Homo sapiens: one gene and its partners. The protein of the gene in region 1 purifies or fractionates together with the protein of each later gene. This does not show direct contact. Each region holds a gene or a part of one and is shown in the gene's direction. Other genes may lie near its edges.

What was found. Proteins that work in one complex are often made in the same cells at the same time.
Region 2: the proteins of ZNF451 (region 1) and SIMC1 purify together in Homo sapiens (affinity purification with western blotting; one study listed by BioGRID and IntAct). This does not show direct contact.
Region 3: the proteins of ZNF451 (region 1) and TOP2B purify together in Homo sapiens (affinity purification with mass spectrometry; one large-scale study listed by BioGRID and IntAct). This does not show direct contact.
Region 4: the proteins of ZNF451 (region 1) and SLF2 purify together in Homo sapiens (affinity purification with western blotting, with the first as the bait; one study listed by BioGRID). This does not show direct contact.

The regions. Positions count from the first base shown.
Region 1 is NC_000006.12:57,095,712-57,101,237, forward strand, and holds part of ZNF451 (E3 SUMO-protein ligase ZNF451), read left to right. Parts: intron 1-3,349; coding exon 3,350-3,430; intron 3,431-4,891; coding exon of another isoform or gene 4,892-5,526. UniProt on the Homo sapiens protein: E3 SUMO-protein ligase; has a preference for SUMO2 and SUMO3 and facilitates UBE2I/UBC9-mediated sumoylation of target proteins. Plays a role in protein SUMO2 modification in response to stress caused by DNA damage and by proteasome inhibitors (in vitro).
Region 2 is NC_000005.10:176,339,424-176,343,935, forward strand, and holds part of SIMC1 (SUMO-interacting motif-containing protein 1), read left to right. Parts: intron 1-4,512.
Region 3 is NC_000003.12:25,618,896-25,623,407, reverse strand, and holds part of TOP2B (DNA topoisomerase 2-beta), read left to right. Parts: intron 1-2,591; coding exon 2,592-2,726; intron 2,727-3,345; coding exon 3,346-3,546; intron 3,547-4,512. UniProt on the Homo sapiens protein: Key decatenating enzyme that alters DNA topology by binding to two double-stranded DNA molecules, generating a double-stranded break in one of the strands, passing the intact strand through the broken strand, and religating the broken strand.
Region 4 is NC_000010.11:100,943,963-100,948,474, forward strand, and holds part of SLF2 (SMC5-SMC6 complex localization factor protein 2), read left to right. Parts: intron 1-63; coding exon 64-166; intron 167-1,367; coding exon 1,368-1,544; intron 1,545-3,076; coding exon 3,077-3,174; intron 3,175-3,797; coding exon 3,798-3,885; intron 3,886-4,512. UniProt on the Homo sapiens protein: Plays a role in the DNA damage response (DDR) pathway by regulating postreplication repair of UV-damaged DNA and genomic stability maintenance.

The DNA.
Region 1 (5,526 bases):
AAATGTTTGCATATTGGTTTAATGGTTCACTGCAAGAATAAATTTCTGATAACCTTATTTGTCCTTACTCCTTCCCTTTAAATATTACTGCAGCTTTTTTTTTTTGTTGTTGTTGTTGTTGTTGTTGTTGAGACAAGAGTCCCTCTCTGTTGCCCAGGCTGGAGTGCACTGGCGTGATCTCAGCTCTCTGCAACTTCTGCCTCCTGGGCTAAAGCGATTCTTGTTCTTCGGCCTCCTGAGTAGCTGGGATTACAGATGTACACCACCACGCCCAGCTAATTTTTGTATTTTTAATAGAGACAGAGTTTTGCCATGTTGGCCCAGATGGTCTCGAACTCATGGCCTCATGTGGTCCACCTGCCTTGGCCTCCCAAAGTGCTGAGATTACAGGCATGAGCCATCCTGCCTGCAGCTATTTTTAAATTATGTTTTTGATCATTTTCTTTCTTCCTTTCTTTCTTTCTGTTTTTTTTTTTTTTTTTTTTTTTTTGAGATGGAGTTTCGCTCTTGTCACCCAGGCTGGAGTGCAGTGGGACAGTCTTGGCTCACTGCAACCTCTGCCTCCCGGGTTCAAGCAATTCTCCTGCCTCAGTCTCCTGAGTAGCTGGAATTAGAGGCGCCCACCACCATGCCTGGCTAATTTTTTGTATTTTTAGTGGAGACAGGGTTTTACCATGTTGGCCAGGCTGGTCTCAAATTCCTGACCTCAGGCAATTCGCCCACCTTGGTCTCCCAAAGTGCTGGGATTACAGGCATGAGCCACCGTGCCCAGCCTGTTTATCTTATTTTTTTCCAGCCCATTTTACTTTTTACCTTGCATCCTGTCATCTTTCATCTTCTTCTTTACTTTCTGTGCATGGGAACTCTGCCTCTGTGTATTTCTGGTTACCGGGGCGGGGGGGTAGGGGGGCGCTTTTGTGTTCTGCTATTTCTGTGGACCTATAATGAAGGTTCCTAATGCATATTTCTTGTAGAGAGCAAAGTAAGATGATTATATCAATGGGAAAAGCTATCATTTTAATTTTTCTTCTTGGATCGAACATACAATTTTCAGTCTTTTTTTTTTTTTTTTTTTTTTTTTTGTGACAGAGTCTTGCTCTGTTGCCCAGGCTGGAGTGCAGTGGCACCATCTCAGCTCACTGCAGCCTCTGCCTCCTGGGTTCAAGCAATTCATCTGCCTCAGCCTCCTGGGTAGCTGGGACTACAGGTGCCCGCCACTACACCCTATTCCTATTTTTAGTGGAGACAGGGTTTCACCATGTTGGCCAGGCTGGTCTTGAACTCCTGACCTCAAGTCATCTACCCACCTCTGCCTCCCAAGGTGCTGGAATTACAGGTGTGAGCCACCGTGCATGGCCTACATTCTTCATACCAGATGTAGATTTTAAAGTAGGTGATTCAGCTCTGTTTACCATATATTGGAGAGTATTGCTTCCTCTGTTTCTTTAATTTTTACTTCCGTGTTTATAGTTTGAGCAAAAATCTCAATTCCTTTGCTACAGATCCCTGCCCAGTTTTGCCCTCTTGTTTTATCTTGGTATCTGAATTAGTACCCAAAAGATGGCAGTTTCTTGGTTGAGCAGAAGTCATAGCCTAGGGGAGAAAGAAGCTATCTTTGAGACTGGATGCCTATTCTAGGGAAGATCATTACCTAGATCTCAGCTTCTGTCTCCAGCAGTCAACTTTCTACATCCTACAAAATCCTTTCCTCAGCTATTATTTCTTCTGTGTTCCTTTCTTTTGTTTCCAACATACTGGATTTCTCAAAAGAATATGGCCTTTTCTACTGCATTCTCTAGTGTTTTAGAGCCTGGCTTCTGTGCTCACTACTTTCTTGAAAGTTGCTCTCTCAAAGACATTTAAAAATGTCTGGTTGCCACATTCAGTGGCATTTTATTGTTGCCGTGTTTCTGGCCACATTTAACACTGACAGCTTTTTATTGAGGCAATATGATAGTTCAGTTTAGTTCTAGAGTTTAATAGTCTTCTAGGGGAGCAACTCTCAAGTCTTTATTTCCAGGTATGTTCATACTTCCCAGATTACAGGCCTGCATTTCCAGCTGTCTGCTAGATACACCCTGTGTACCACTGTTACTTCAGCCCATAGGAATGTCAGCTTTCTGTTTCTGCTTTCCAAAGTTATACTATTGGCATTACTATTCTTATAGTCACCTGAGGTTAAAAACTTAGAGATCACTGACTCCTTGTTTTGTTTTTTAAATAATCTTTTAAATTTATTTTTATTTATATATTTATTATTATTATTATTATTATTATTGGGATAGTCTTGCTCTGTTGCCCGGGCTGGAGTGCAGTGGCGTGATCTTGGCTCACTGCAACTGCTGCCTCCCAGGTTCAAGCAATTCTCCAGCCTCAGCCTCCTGAGTAGCTGGGACTACAGGCACGCACCACCATGCCTGGCTAATTTGTACATTTTTAGTAGAGATGGAGTTTTACCATGTTGGTCAGGCTGGTCTCGAACTCCAGCCTGGCCAACATGGTAAAACCCCATCTGTACTAAAAGTACACAAATTAGCCAGGCATGGTTCTAACCTCAGGTGATCCCCCACCTTGGCCTCCCAAAGTGGTGGGATTACAGACATGAGCCACCACACCTGGCCTAATAATCAATCTCTTTTAGTTTTCCATTTTACTTGTATTCTCTTGTATATCCACTACCATACTCTTCTTGCCATCACCACCATTAGTTCTGCATTGTCATGTGCCTATACTGATTATCTTGCTTTCCCTGCTCTCCATACTCCTCTATGTGATTGATCTTGAAGCACAGTTCTCATGTTATTGTCTTATTATTATTTTTTATTTTCTTTTGCCTATTGAATAAAATCTAGGCTTTTAAGCCTGACATTCAAGGCCTGGTTGATGAAGAAATTGGCATGGATGGAAAGAAAGAATGGAAAAGAATTCAGGTTTGATGCTTGACTCTGCAGTGGTGGATGATGAAGCTGAGCTATAAGTCAATTCATTTTTGAACTTGGATATATTAACAGACTTTTGATACCAATTCTAGGTGTAAAGCACTGGATTATAATATTTGTGTCTTTGTAGCACTGTTCTTATATTAATTTTCCTTTCCCAAGTAATTGACATGGCCCTAATATTCTACAGGGGTGTAGGTGCTTCCTTTTAGGTCTTGTCATCATTTTACATTTATATATTTTGAATATTTTCCTCTGCTGCTTTTGTTCTGGTTATTTTCTGCTACCCACAAAGCTCCCTCTTCAGAGTAATTCTTGCCAGTCCCAACCAAAAAAAACACTGTAGGTTTAAATGCTAATTTGGTTTGAATAACTGTTAATGACTTCTAAATTTGCTTGATTGTTTATAGGAAGGACCATTACGACCTGTTCTTGAATACATTGATCTGGTCAGCAGTGATGATGAAGAGCCTAGCACCTCTTATACTGATGTAAGTACATTATATTTGATTTGTGTTTCTTCACTTGTGTCTTTTAAGAGGTATTCTCTAAAGAGAGTTACCAAATCAGGGAAGGCTGTGTTTAGAAATAGCCAGTTCTATTAGAATGGGCTAAAATAGGTAGTCCAAGGAGTCCTTTGCCCAGATCTCCTACTTCCAGTTTTTTTCCTCTACTTTGAATGAGATTATGAAAAAAATGATAATATGACTCTGGGAAATTCAGAGCCTTAGAGGTGATATCTGATAAAATGGAAATGGAATAAAAACTGCAAGCTTATTGATTCCTCTTTCCCTTCTCTTTTCCTTTACTCTCCTCAGGTGCCCTATACAACAGGATTCTTTTGTTCCAGAACCACATGACCACAGAAAATTTGTTTTCTCTTAGAAAAAAGGATATGTAGAGATCCTTTTAGGAATGGAAAGTGGGGGAAGGGTTTATAGGGGATATATTACTTCAGTCATCATCCCTTTAACCTTGTCTGTGCCCCACATATTTGGAGTTATTTATCTTACCTGTGATGTACTGGTTGTAGGTTTGACCCTTGGACCAATACTTCCCTTGCTCTGAGAATTGAACTAGTTGAGCCCTTTGTAACAGTCTTGCCTTTCATTTGTCCTTGCTTTAGCCCAAACTTCTGTTAATGAGCTGTTTTCATCTTGGATTAGAAAACTCTTAGTTATTGTTCAGAGTGGCCACAAACTTCTTGCTCTGTGATATAGGGGATTGAGACTTGGACTTGGAATCAGAATACCTGGGTTTGAGTCCCAGCTTTACTCTTTACAAATTCTGTGACTTTGGATAAATTAAGTAACCTTTTAGCCTCCGTTTTTTAATCAAATAATACCTACCTCACAGGGTTGTTGTGAGGATGAAATGAGGTAACAAATTATAACTTCTTATAACTACAAACCATAAAGTAGGACTATACAACTGGGAAGTTTTGTTATTCGTGGACAGTGAATGACAGAATTTTCAGAGGTGCCTAAAATGACTCTAATGGGGGAGTTTTAGATTTTTTTTCTTCTCAGTGGAACTTTCCTTAAGTTCTCTTTGCCATCATTAGCTTCTTGCATATCTTGAGTAGAACTTAACATATCTTGAATGGGATATTTTTTTCTTTTATTCTTATGAGTGGTCTCACACAGGACCAAACAGCAGGCCAGCATAGCACCACGTGATCTGAGCTTGTTTTTACTCTCTCCTTTTTCATAAACAGAGTCCCAGATTAATGCCAGTAGTTGATTTTGGGTCTTTGGGGTAGTGAAGCTTGTGGATTTGACTTCTCTGATTCCTTTTGCTGACCTTGAGTGGATTGTATCTTTCACTGTTAATTATAATAATTTAAAAATTGAGTTCTACTTACTGGACATGAATCTCTGCACTTGAAAGTTAACATATTAAAAGCATATTTTTTTTCTTCCTTGGTTTTCTTGTTCATGTGGATAACCCAGAGAATGCCTGAATCTAAGGTGCCATCCTCTGAGAATCATCGCCCAGAAATGTGCTCTAGCTGCAATGTTCCTCTTCCCATTGGAGATAGCAGCTCCTTCTCTGGGAGTTGTTCCAGCAGTCCAGAAAGGATAGTTTCTCAAACTTCCTCTGTTGAGAACCCATTGGAGAACCAGAAAAATGATCAAAATAATTCAGATACTAAGATCTCTGAGACAGAGACCCTTAAATCATCACAGAATTTTCAGACTCTGCCTTCATCTCCACTTCTGGTCCCCCAAGAATCTTTGGCCTCTTCTGAGGTCAAAGAGAATTTACGTATAGATTCTTCTTCAGCTTCACAGCATGGACGGGATGCCATCCTCTATCTCCAGACACAAGTAGCTGAAATGTCCCGAGTGATACGTGATCTGCAGTCCAGGAGCTGTTTTAGATTTCATCATTCTAGGCCAAGTGAGAACTCCTCAGTTCCTTGGGACATCTCCACCTCTAAAGAGGAAAATTTATCCACAGTTGAAGAAGAAACTGATTACAAATCACCATCAGCTGATGACAAAGGGCAGCCATCTGACCCCAGCCAATCTAGTTTCACAGGTCTTTTGAAGAGAATGGAACAAAGAGGTGTTATAAAAAGGGT
Region 2 (4,512 bases), on another chromosome or scaffold:
CATTTGTAGCACCCTCAAAGAAAGGTGCATGTCCTTCTCCAAACAAAGACCCGAAGGCAAGTTCCATGTGTTCTTACCCTCAGTGAGGCTTATGTAATTGTTTTGGAGATTACCAGAAAGGTTAATATTAACAGCTTGTTTTAAAGTTCACCTTTAACATTTCTTGTTCCTTTCTATTTTGATTCCCGGGGAATACACCTATCATGGGCAATAATGACTTAAGGTGGAAACGGAATCTACTTTTATTACAGAATATTTTTTATGTTTTGATAAGAGAGAGAAAGGCCTCAAACCAGTATATATTGACCAAGAATAAATGGGGTGTGTTGCAGTGCTGTTTTATCCTTAAATGTTTGTTCCAGCTTCTTTGGGGTCCAAGAGTTAGGAAGGAGGAAAATTAGCACTAGTAGTTTGAAAACATTGTCCTGCAAAGAACACAGCCGAATGGTACCCAGCAATAGTCAGCGTCCTTGTCAGTCAGTAAGCATCTTACTGTGAGGGCCCTTCGTCTCATCTCTGCCTTCTGCGAGTGGTCTGTGGATGTTGTTGAGGGCATTTTGAGATCAGTCTGAGTTGTCTAGCTCCACTAGTTGTCTAGCTGCAAGAGTGGGAGAAGAAGGGAAGGGATTAGAGAGCCCAAGCTTTCCTTTTGTTTAGGGGAACTCTCAGCATGGAGGAAGAAAGGAAAAGAGATTAGGTAAATTCACCTGCACTGGTTTATATAATCCAAAAACCTTGTGAAGGTATCACCCCCTGTTATAGATGGGAAAACAAAGGCTGAGAGAAAAGCAAATGCAGAGCTAGGATTCAAACAGGTCTGTCAGAGACACGGATTCTGGGCTGTCAATTGAGCTCATGTTCTTGTTCTTTGGCCGAGAGAATCAATCCCCCCCACCCCAGTTGCATAGCCATGTGGCTCAAGTTTCAGCCTCAGCAAAATTACAAAGTGCTGCCTGTCATGGAGTTTATGAGTATGAATTCTAGGGATTTGAACATATAATATTTCAATGAACAAATGCATGCTTTTCCTGAATCCTGCTTATCTGGCCAGCATAGCTTGCAGAAGTCAGTCACAGTCATTCTGAGGCCAGTCACACACACGGTCTCCCTGCAAGGAGCCCTGTCCACGGACGGGGAAAAGCAGAAGCAGGTAGGATCAGTTCAATTCATATATTTATCCAGGCAACAGATATCTACTGAATGTCCTCTCTGTCCTCTGTGCTCACTGGGAAAACCTTAATGAATAAGACCAGCATGGCATCTGCCCTCACAGAGCTTACTGTTTAGTGGAGAGATTGATCCTAAATGAATAATGATACAAGTAACCTATAGTTACATAGAGTAAATGCTATGAAGGAAGTACAAGTGCACAAAATCTATTTTTGGAGGGATCCAGGAAGGCCTCCCTGAAGAAGTGATACCTCATCTAAGACATTAAGTAGGCGGGGCGCAAGGGCTCACCCCTGTAATCCTAACACTTTGGGATGCTGAGGTGGATGGATCACCTGAGGTCAGGAGTTCAAGACCAGCCTGGCCAACATGGCAGATCCCCATCTCTACTAAAAATACAAAAATTAGCCAGGCGTGGTGGTGGGTGCCTGTAATCCCAGCTGCTTGGGAGGCTGAGGCAGGAGAATTGGTTGAACCCGGGAGGCAGAGGTTGCAGTGAGCTGAGATCGTGCCACTGCACTCCAGCCTGGGCAGCAGAGCAAGACTCCATCTCAAAAAGAAATAAATAAAAGACATGAAGTAATGGTGTTAGCCAGGCAAATGGGGAGACAAGAGTTTTCCAGAAAGAAGGCACTGAATGTCCAAGGGCCTTGAGGCAAAAAGATGCTTAGTGAGTCCAAGGAACATAGAACAAGCTAGCAGGGCAAGGATGTAGTGAGTAAGGGGAGAATAACACTAAATGAGACTAGAATAGTCCATGGAGGAGGTTGTGAAGGGCCATCTTGGCCATGCTAAGGAAATTCAGCTGGTTCTAATAACAGAGTGAAGCCATCAAAGTGGTTGGTTCCAAGTAAGGGAGTGTCATGATCAGATCTGCAAATTTAAAGGCTGCTCTACCTGATGTGTAGCGAATCATTTGGCAGAGGGCCAGAGGGGCCAGGGGAGGGGTAATGGTGACAAGGGTGTGGCAAGGACAGAAGGACAGTGGAGAAGGCAGTGGATGGGACAGAAGCACTTTGAAGATAACTTTGACAGGGCTCTTAAGTGACTGAGTCTGAAGGGTGACTCCCAGGGTTCTGCCATTACTGATATGGAGAAAGATCTGCAAAGAAGATGAAGAGCTCAGGTTTGACATATTAGGTAGGAGATTCCTATAGTGATGATGATGATGATGATGATGATGATGAAATAATAATTAACTCTTGTATTGATCCAAAACTACTAACAATACTATCAGCTGAAATATCTTGAGCCAGGCATTATGGCTCAAACCCTTTTCAATGCTAAATGTCCTCATACAGTAATCAGCAACCTCTGACATAACAACTCTTATCCCTACCGAAGCATAAAATCCAAGGCCTTGTTGACTAGACCAGCAGGGCTGAAGTCCACTGGCCAGGGTTTCCTCCCCCATAGACAGTGCTGAGATGGGCACTGCTAACATTTGCTTCTTTAACTTTCCTGCATGATTTAATAAACTCCACATTCTTCTTGCTTGCCCTCTAAGTTTCCCCTGTCCCACCCTATTCAGTCAACTTTTTTTCCACTTCTTTCAAAATCATTTTTGTATTTTTCAGAGTGGCACATGCCTTAAGAAAATCAAAGTCTACAAAAAGGCTCTTCCTAAGACAATTCCTAACTAGTCTCAAATAAAACAGCTCATATTTCCCTATTTACAACCCTCTAAGTCTATAGATACCCTGTTTGCTCTCAAAGGCCAAACTCCACATTATAATGTGGCCTACCCTACCTTCCAATCTCATCTAGTACTTGTCTCCCTTTTATTACTCTGATTTTTTTAAGTTTCTCGATTTATAAAGTCATTACCTTATGTTAGCTGAAACACTTTAAGTATCAAATGTAATTTTCATTGCCTTCCATGGATGCCATTAACGTGGTATATGCATCCCCAGTGCTTCCACCCAGTTCCAGAGGCTGGGAAGTCCAAGGTCGAGGGGCTGCACCCGGGAAGGACTTCTTGCTGCGTCTTACCACGGCAGAAGGCTTCCTACCCTGATTTTCTGTCTTGTTCTCTAAGCATGCTTTTCCTCAGGACATTTGCTATTGCTGTTCTCCATGGACTGCTTTTCCCTTTGACCTTTGCATGGTTGCCTCCTCATCCGTCAATACTCAGCTCACAGACCCTCCGTGGCTAGAGTGGGCTGCTTCCCTTATTCCCCTCAGTGTTACTGTTTATCACAGCATCTGATTTATTTATTTGATTGCATTTGCCACAAACTATAATCAATATTGTTGACTAACTTATCATCAGGCTTCCTGCAACTAGAATATCAGTCCACAAGGACTGGGCCCAAGGCTCTAAATTCCACTGTGTCCCCAGACTCTAGCCAGTTCCTGATATGCAGTAGGTGCTCAGTAAATGTGTGCTGTTTGAAGGTTGAAAGGGCCTTGCACTTCCATCTCAAGGCAGCTTTGTTTCCTGTGTTTCCAGACTTTTTGAACATGCTGTTGTATACTTACTGTACTTCTTCACAGATTACAGACTTTAGTTTTGAGAGATTTTGCTTTTCCATCATTTTATCTGAAGGTTGAGAAAAAACATATTGAATGTATTACTTGAAAATGTAACCTGATAAACCGCTTAAAATGTAACCTGATATACCACTTAAAATGATTTGTTCTGTGTCCTAAATCTGGATACAGTGTAGCTCAGTCCTTTTAATAACTGTTAGTGAAAGTGCCATCATCCCCGTTTGATAAATGAGGAGACTGAGAAATGATGGTGTACTTATGTGCAACTGGAAGTCTTCAAGTCCCCAGAACTCTCTCAATACATTTGCCTAATGTGACCTTCTGCTCATTTGCCTCAATTCCACACACTTCTAGAATCTATTGGGGCTGGCCTGTAGATTTGGGATGAGATACCTTTATAACTTTTTGTTTTCCTATTTTCATTTTTAGACCTACGGAAAAGTAGAAAGAATAGTATAACGAATGCCCATATATATACCGTTTACGCTGATTCATTAGCTTCTAAGATTTTGACACATTTGGTTTACCTATTGATCCATGTATATACCATTTTTTCTGAAACAGTTGATAAGTGCGCCATCATAATTGTATTGCTTAAGTACTTCAGCATGTTCAGCATGTATCTCCTAAGCGTAAGGATATTGTACTTCATACCACTGTGCATTATCACACTCACGAAACTTTTCTTTTTTTGTTTTTTTGTTTTGTTTTGTTTTGTTTTTTTTGAGACGGAGTCTAGCTCTGTCGTCCAGGCTGGAGTGCAGTGGTGTGATCTTGGCTCACTACAACCTCCACCTCCCGGGTTCAAGCAATTCTCCCACCCTCAGGCTTCCGAGTAGCTGGGATTAC
Region 3 (4,512 bases), on another chromosome or scaffold:
AGACCGTAAAGACCTAATTAGGGTATAATTTGATATGTGCCTACAGTAAAAAGTATAAACTTTGGAATGAGTTTTGGAGGTAAGTTTCATGGGGAGAAACTGTTTATTTAAATTTAGAAACACCTCATATTCCAGGTTTTCAAACCTCTAAACCCTATATTATTAGAAAACAATCCTTTTCTGATAAAATTATGTGTAACCTTGTTTCTGTTCTCAAACTACCGCTTAATAGTTTGTAAGGATGCTTAAAAACACATTGTATTCATTAGTGTACCATTTGTAAAAAGACAGAAAACAAACTACCTTGTATATATTTTAATATATCCCCAAGGCTGGGCGTGGTGGCTCACACCTGTAATTCCAGCACTTTGGGAGGCCAAGGCATATGGATCACCTGAGGTCAGGAGTTCGAGACCAGACTGACCAACATGGGGAAACTCCATCTCTACTAAATATACAAAAAAAATTAGGTGTTGCTCAGGCTCACGCCTGTAATCCCAGCACTTTGGAGGCCGAGGTGGGTGGATCACCTGAGGTCAGGAGTTCTAGGCCAGCCTGACCAAACCAGGTAGAACCCTGTCTCTACTAAAAATACAAAAATTAGCCGGGTGTGCTGGAGGGCACCTGTAATCCCAGCTACTTGGGAGGCAGAGGCAGGAGAATCGCTTGAACCCAGGAGGTGGAGGTTGCGGTGAGCCGAGATTGCGCCACTGTACTCCAGCTTGGGGAACAGAATGAGACTCCGTCTCCCAAAAAAAAAAAAAAAAATCCCCATTTTTTTTTTATGTTTGTTGTTTTCTTGTATCATTCACTCTGCTCAGACCTCCTCCAAGAAAAATGTCCTTCCTTCCTCCCCATGATTTAAAATTACCTGGAGAAAAGTGTATTTTTATTACCAAAATGATAATGTTTATTGTAGAAAATATAGGTAAGCAAAGAGTAAAAAAATCCATAAACCCACAATATAGAGACAATATTTTGATGTATTTTTCCAAGTTTTATTTCATTTTTGTATTTTAAAGTGAAAGTTATTCTTTAGCAATAAGACATATATTCTGCTTTTTCTCTTAAATACTTCAAAGTACTTCAAAATATTTCTAACATAAGCATCAAATTTTTAATGATAGTGTTTTACTGAAATGGTTTTGGATTTTTAAATGGATTTTAGATTGTTAAGATAGTGTATTTGATCAATACATGGTTCTTATGTGCCTACTATGTGTATGAAACTGTGCTAAGTGGTGAGATAAAGAGCTATGGTTTTTATCTTTGAAAAGTTAAACAGTTGTCAAGACAAGACATCAAAGCATCAAGGCTTGAAGTTTAACAGTGACAAACGATATTGATAGTTGCTTGGTATGCCAGAAGAAATGTCCTATGCTATATGCTCAATTTCTTTCTTTCTTTTTTTTTTTTTCTGAGACAGAGTCTCACTCTGTCACCCAGGCTGGAGTACAGTGGTGTGATCTTGGGTCACTGCAACCTCTGTCTCCCAGGTTCAAGTGATTCTGCTGTCTCAGCCTCCTGAGTAGATGGGGCCACAGGTGTGCGCCACCATGCCTGTCTAATTTTTGTATTTTTAGTAGAGACGGGGTTTCACTGTGTTGGCCAGGCTGGTCTCGAACTCCTGGCCTCAAGTGATCCGCCTGCTTTGGCCTCCCAAAGTGCTGGGATTACAGGCATGAGCCACTGTGCCCGGCCTATATACTCGATTTCTTAATGATAATAACGAATAAGAATTTTAGAGTAGGCCAGGTGCAGTGACTCATGTCTATAATCCCAGCACTTTGGGAGGCTGAGCTGGGCAGATCACTAGCTCAGGAGTTGAAGACCAGCCTGGGCAACATGGCAAAACCCTGTCTCTACAAAAATACAAAAATTAGCTGGACATGGTGGCACGCATCTGTAACCCCAGCTACTTGGGAGGCTGAGGTGGGAGGATCCTTTGAGCCCAGGTGGTTGAGGCTGCAGTGAGCTGATATCGTGCCACGGCACTCCAGCCTGGGTGACAAAGTGGAGACCCTGTCTCAAAACAAATAAAAACTTAGAAGAGGGAGAGAGGACTTGTAATTCAGTTGGGAAGGATGAGTAAGATTTATGTAGATGAATGATGAATGGAATGGGGTTGGGCCTGAATATGTGTCAGGACTTGTGGATAGAGTGAAAGTGAGAATATTCAAAATAGTCAAACAAAATATGGGAGAAGAGTAGTGGTTTTGTAAGACAAATCATTAGAGAAAAAATTGAAAGCCAGATTGGGTCCAGACTATGAAATGCTTTCAATGTAAGGCCCAAGGAGTTTGAATTTAAAGGATATTGATCTAGGAGAGAAGTAGGTGTAGGGGAAGTAGGCTGAAAGAAAGTACTGTTCTAGGAAGACTAGGAAAGATGATACTAACATTTTGAGATTGGAGGATGTTCAGGTTGTATGAACAGAAGCTATGAATTCAAGCTTAATTGATCAGTTGGAAAGGGACAATTGAGGATGAGAAATTCTGTTTCAGTTGTGTTAATCTGTCAATGTTAGACCATAGACTCATGGTACTGGTACTCAAGAGAGAAGTCAATGCTATTTACCTTTTTCTCTACAGCTTCCAAACTACAAAAACTTTAAAGGCACGATTCAAGAACTTGGTCAAAACCAGTATGCAGTCAGTGGTGAAATATTTGTAGTGGACAGAAACACAGTAGAAATTACAGAGCTTCCAGTTAGAACTTGGACACAGGTCAGTGTAAATATGTGATCTGCCTGAGGGAAGGGCAGTGTATTAAGCAATTTTTTCTGGTAAGGATGATTCCACCGTTGTTGGTCCTAAGCGTGCGTAGTGTTAAAAAATTCCTGTACCTTCTTTTACCCTTCAGTTGAATTTGTGCTTTGAATATTTAAATAGTATTTATATCTAAGTAGCGTAGTATGACTTATGTTAGGTAAGGCTTTTATAGACTATTATCTTTGTATTTATTTAAAATAAAAGGAGTAGAATATGACAGTGTTTTTAATTCTTGTAAATATGGTCAGTAAATTCATGTCAGCATCAGCTTTACAAATCTAAAAGTATGCATGTCACCTCTTGACAGTTCCAGTTGATGTCATCCTTTTCATACTCAGCCTTTATCTTGCCCTTTAGAGTATGAGTGGGTCAGCACCATTACTTCTTATGTCTTTTCCCACCACCGAGATCCCTGTGTATTGCCTTCTATACTGATTGGATAGGAGATGATAGAGATTGAGGTTTCCTTTTTAATTCCCCATGAGAGTTGAGAATTTTCAAGACTGTATGACTTGTAGTATGAGAACATGAGAGTGTGTCATGAAAAGAATCACTAATTTTTAAATCTTTATAGGTATATAAAGAACAGGTTTTAGAACCTATGCTAAATGGAACAGATAAAACACCAGCATTAATTTCTGATTATAAAGAATATCATACTGACACAACTGTGAAATTTGTGGTGAAAATGACTGAAGAGAAACTAGCACAAGCAGAAGCTGCTGGACTGCATAAAGTTTTTAAACTTCAAACTACTCTTACTTGTAATTCCATGGTAATTTATTAGATTTACTGTTAATTTAATCTTTCTTGCATGGTATAAGTCGGATTATTATAATTGGTTTCATGATGGGAGTGGCTATAGTAAGCCTGAAGGCATTTTTTTTTTTTTTTTTTTCCCATCCTGCAGATTTGCTGAAGATTCTAGGGGCACATTTCTTTCTTCTAGTATTGTCCACTACCCTTATTCTCAACTCTGTGTTTATGCATCTGGGCTTGAAAACACAGGATACACACATCTTCACACACATTGACTAAAAGTTATGAGAGTGGTTATTGCAGGGCCTTTGTGTACTTTATGGCCATCTCTATTAGCATTTTAACTGTAGAGTACTCATAACTCTAATCTGCTTTATTAAACTTGCACATTTATCTTTATTTATACAACTGGGGAGGAAGGTAGAAACTTTAAGTGTGTGATTCAAGTTCCATTCCAAATTAGCTTTTAGATCTAAAAAAGTAAAAAAAGTTCAGCAGTAGTACAGTGGCTGAGAAAAAGTGCCATAATCCGCTGAGAAAGGCTGATGGAAGAAAGAAAAAGGATAGAGAGGAGTTTGGGTGACTGGATTATAGCACAAGTAAATGTGAAAGCGAGAGAAAGGGGACAAATGCGTATACACAGAATATATGGGGGAGGAAAAACTTGAACATTTTTAAACTTAGCAATAGAATATGTATGTTTTCAGTTTGGGGAAAAATCATTTTTGTAGGTGGTTTTATGGTTACTTTAAGAGCCCTTTTTTTAAGGCCTATTTTTGTCTTTCAATATTATTCCTAAATACTTTTGTTGTGAGAATTGAATTTATTGGCTTGCAGTCACCAAAGAAATATTTACAGAAATGTGCTTAATAGTCTTAGTTCTGTTTAATGGTTTTTAGGGGTAGTCTGTGTTCACACACATGCATTATGGTTATATATTATGGTTATTTTAAGTATTGTAGATGTTATATAAGTTAAAATA
Region 4 (4,512 bases), on another chromosome or scaffold:
TTTCTTAAAGTGAGTTATATATTTTGTGCCTAACTTCACATTGCTTTACTCACTTCTCAATAGTTCTGAAACACAGACAACATCAAGGGGGAAAGAAAGTGAAGATTCATCTTATAAGCCAATTTTTTCAACACTTCCTGAAACCAACATTTTAAATGTGGTTAAGGTAGGAAAGAACTTTTATGTGTCTTCTGCTCAGAGCTAGAACCATTTAGTCTGTGGTTAATGGTTTTTAAAAAAAAAAAAGTCTCGGCCGGGCGCGGTGGCTCACGCCTGTAATCCCAGCACTTTGGGAGGCCAGGGCGGGCAGATCACAAGGTCAGGAGATCGAGACCATCCTGGCTAACACGGTGAAAACCCGTCTCTACTAAAAATACAAAAAATTAGCCAGGCATGGCAGCGGGTACCTGTAGTCCCAGCTATTCAGGAGGCTGAGGCAGGAGAATGGCGTGAACCCAGGAGGCGGAGCTTGCAGTGAGCCGGGATCGTGCCACTGCACTCTAGCCTGGGCAACAGAGCAAGACTCTGTCTCAAAAAAAAAAAAAAAAAAAACTCTCTAGTTTCTTACCAGGTGATTTCCAGTCTCTGAAATTTCTTAGCAATAATCTTTGTATTAAAAATTGTTTTTGCTGTTTTTATTTTGTTTTAATATTAGTGATGAACAGAACTTTAAGTCAGTTACATCATTAAATAGTTTTGAAACCAATAGTTTTTTATAAGTAGGATGTATGAAGAAAAAAGACTTACAATACAACTTAGTAATCAAGAGTTAATGGCAGAGGCCGGGCGCGGTGGCTCATGCCTGTAATCCCAGCACTTTGGGAGGCCAAGACGGGTGGATCACCTGAGGTCAGGAGCTCAAGACCAGCTTGGCCAACATGGTGAAACCCCATCTCTACTAAAAATACAAAAAAAAAATTAGTCAGGCGTGGTGGCAGGTGCCTGTTATCCCAGCTACTGGGGAGGCTGAGGCGGGAGAATCACTTGAACCCGGGAGGTGGAGGTTGCAGTAAGCCGAGATCACACCACTGTACTCCAGCCTGGGCGACAGAGTGAGACTCCGTCTCAAAAAAAAGAAGATAAAAAAAAAAAGAGTTAATGACAGTGTGAAACATTTTTAGTTGCTGAATTGAATCAGTGATACAGAACCATTAAGAAAATCTCAAAAATGGAAAATGGAGAAGAAAATGCCACTTAATTCAACTATTAACATTGAGTAGTTCTTGCCTTCTTTTCTCTAGACATCGGATGTTTGTTTTCTTTATAGTTCTTTTTTGCATCTTTTGTCAAAAAGAGTTTATAATTAAAACTCTAAAAGTAAAATATACCTCCTAAAATATTTTTGTCTGTGCATTTATGTTAAACAGTTTCTAGGCTTGTGTACATCTATACATCCAGAAGGTTACCAGGATCGTGAAATAATGTTGCTGATTTTAATGTTATTTAAAATGAGTTTGGAAAAACAGCTGAAACAGATTCCTTTAGTAGACTTTCAAAGCCTCCTGATAAACCTGATGAAAAACATCAGAGATTGGAACACAAAGGTAATGTTACTTAAAACTTCATTATTCATTTTTTATATAGCATTACAATTTGACTCATAGTGCATATGGAATTAATACTGTTTCTAAACTCAAGATCTTTGGCGGATTAAAAATGAACTGAGGAAGGGAATGTTTGCTGGAGCTGTATTATTTAAATTCGTGATAATTGAATTTTTTCTAAAACTTCAACTCTTTATCCAACAAAAATGTGTTTATTGGGGATTTCCTATGGACTAAGCATTAATGTAGGTGCTAGAGATTGAGCTGTGAAAGAGACAAAGCCTTTGCCTTCATGGGGCTTTTGTCCTAGTCAAAGGGTTAGATAAACAAGTAAATGTTGATTATATTATCATGTCAGGTAGTAGTTAAGTACTACAAATGAAAATAAAGCAGGACATGAGTACAGCAAGACCAGATGCTATGCTATTTCATATAAGGCTGGCAGGGAAAGGCCTTTCCAAAATAACCTTGGAGCAGAGACCTAAATGAAATGATGGAGTGAGTCATACCTACAACCAGAATTTGAGTTGAACTTCTGCAACCATATGGAGGATGAACATGTATAATTTTTGTTAGGCCTTTTTAAAAATTATATTTTTCAGTCTTTTTTGGTGGAAAAATTAAAATATGCAAAAGTAAGGCAAAGAGTATAATAAATTCCTAAGTATCACTTTGCTTCAATAATTGAGACATAATCTTGCCTAATGTAAAACCGACCCTATATTTCCTTTCCCTGCTCATCAGATTATTTTGAAGCAACTGTTACGCTTTTTTAAAAATTGATACACAATGGTAATACATATTTTGGGGGTGTTAGGCTTTTTTTTTTTTTTTTTTCTGTAAGACAGCATCTCCTGTCACCCAGGCAGGAGTGCAGTGGCGCAGTCTTGTCTCAGTGCAGCCTCTGCCTTCCGGATTCAGGCGATTCTCATTCCTCAACCTCCCGAGTAGATGAGACTATAGATACATGCCACTCCGCCCAGCTAATTTCTGTGTATTTAGTAGAGACAGGGTTTTACCATTTTGGCCAGGCTGGTCTCAAACTCCTGGCCTCAAGTGATTCACCTCCCTCGGCCTCCCAAAGTGCTGGGATTACAGGCTTGAGCCACCACACCTGGCCAGGTGTTAGGCTTTTAAAAATACTGGAATAGGATCCCTAAAGTGCAAGAAATCCCAAATCAGGAACATATATGGTCTTGTACAGCTCTCATACACATTTGTATTTAGATCAGTTTATCTTTCCAAGAAGGACTGTTTAAATATCAATGGGAGATATGATGTAGTACAAAACGTGAAAGCCAAGTGAAATTCTGCTAAATGTATCTGTTCAGTCCATTTAAGATAGTATAAGTAAAACTGAATCTGTGTATTGTGTACATTTTAGCAGATTCTAGACTCCATGCTATTTCTAAAAATGTGCTCTGTTTTGTACTAGTGCTTCCATTATGTCAAGAAGGGTTGTAGATGATCTGTTGGGTGTTTTATTCTACTGTTCTGTTTGAAAAGAAATCTTACATGTTCTTTTTTTTCAGGTGCCTGAACTCTGTCTGGGCATAAATGAACTCTCCAGTCATCCCCACAACCTCCTGTGGTTGGTACAGCTGGTCCCTAATTGGACATCACGTGGAAGGTATTAAAAAGTGAAAATTAAACATTAAGAAATTTTATAATTTTACATTAATGAAATGCCTTGGGTTGTTTATTTCCATTCATCATTCTTTGAATGTTAGATCAGATATGTTTATTTCATATTCAGTTGCGAGAAAAGGCATTGATAGCCTGATTCTGCCTTATTCTAATTCTTAACTCAGGTCATTATGTAATTTTTTTTTTTTTGAGACAAGAGTCTCACTCTGTCACCCAAGCTGAATATTTTTTTATTTTTAATTTTAGTTTATCTGTTACCTTAATACAGATGACATATTCCACAAAAATAAATGAATTAGCTTTTTTTTGCTTTAGTAAAAATAAATTTCATCAGTAAAAAAATAGGTTTTCTGTCAGTAAATCATCAGGGTCAAAGATAAGGCCGTTAAATGATTTATTGAGCTTCAGATAACTCAAGTTTTATGTACAGATATTTTACATGAAAATTTTACTGTTCTATAACAGCTTATATGTTCCTGTACAGACTTCTCTTGAAACATTGCCTATATTTCCAATTAGAACTAGAGCTCCTCTTGGCTCATTCATTTGCTTTTCAAGCAGTATTAATTAAAATACATTCTAAATACTTTTAACTTCTAATTCTAGGCAACTGAGACAGTGCCTCAGTCTAGTGATTATTTCAAAGCTTTTGGATGAGAAACACGAAGATGTTCCTAATGCCAGTAATCTGCAGGTATAAATAAATACATTTTTATTTTTAATAAATGGGAGAGGTAATGAGAGGTGTAAGGAAAATTGATGAACCCTAAGTCAAAGGTCCTGGGGTCAGAGCTCAGCTCTTAAGCTTGATACTGTTCATGTAATCTCTAGCACACTTAACTAACAAGATCCAATTTTTTCATCTGTGAAATGGAGATAATATTGCACCCTCCACCACTTAGGGTGGTTGTGGACAATCAGATGTGAATTAATGTATAAAGAAACTACTGGGAAAATCATAATGTGCAATTATATGAATATGATTTCATTTATTGAATTAGTTCAGCTTTTCCAAGTTAGCAATTTTATCACAAGATTAGAAATTGCAAAACCCTTGTACATTGATTGCATCTTTAACCTGTTTTAAAATGAGTCTTTTTAGATCATAGAGCTTAAATGTAGTTGCCCTCTAGTACTTGTTCAGTAAGAATATATCATGTATATATGAGAGTGTGGATAAACATGTCCAGCTGTTGCTGGGTACTGGTGGCACACACCTATCGTCCCAGCTACTTGGGAGGCTGAGGCCAGAGGATCCTTTGAATCCAGGAGTTCAAGTCCAACCTAAGCAACATAGGGAGACCTTGTCTTTAATATATAT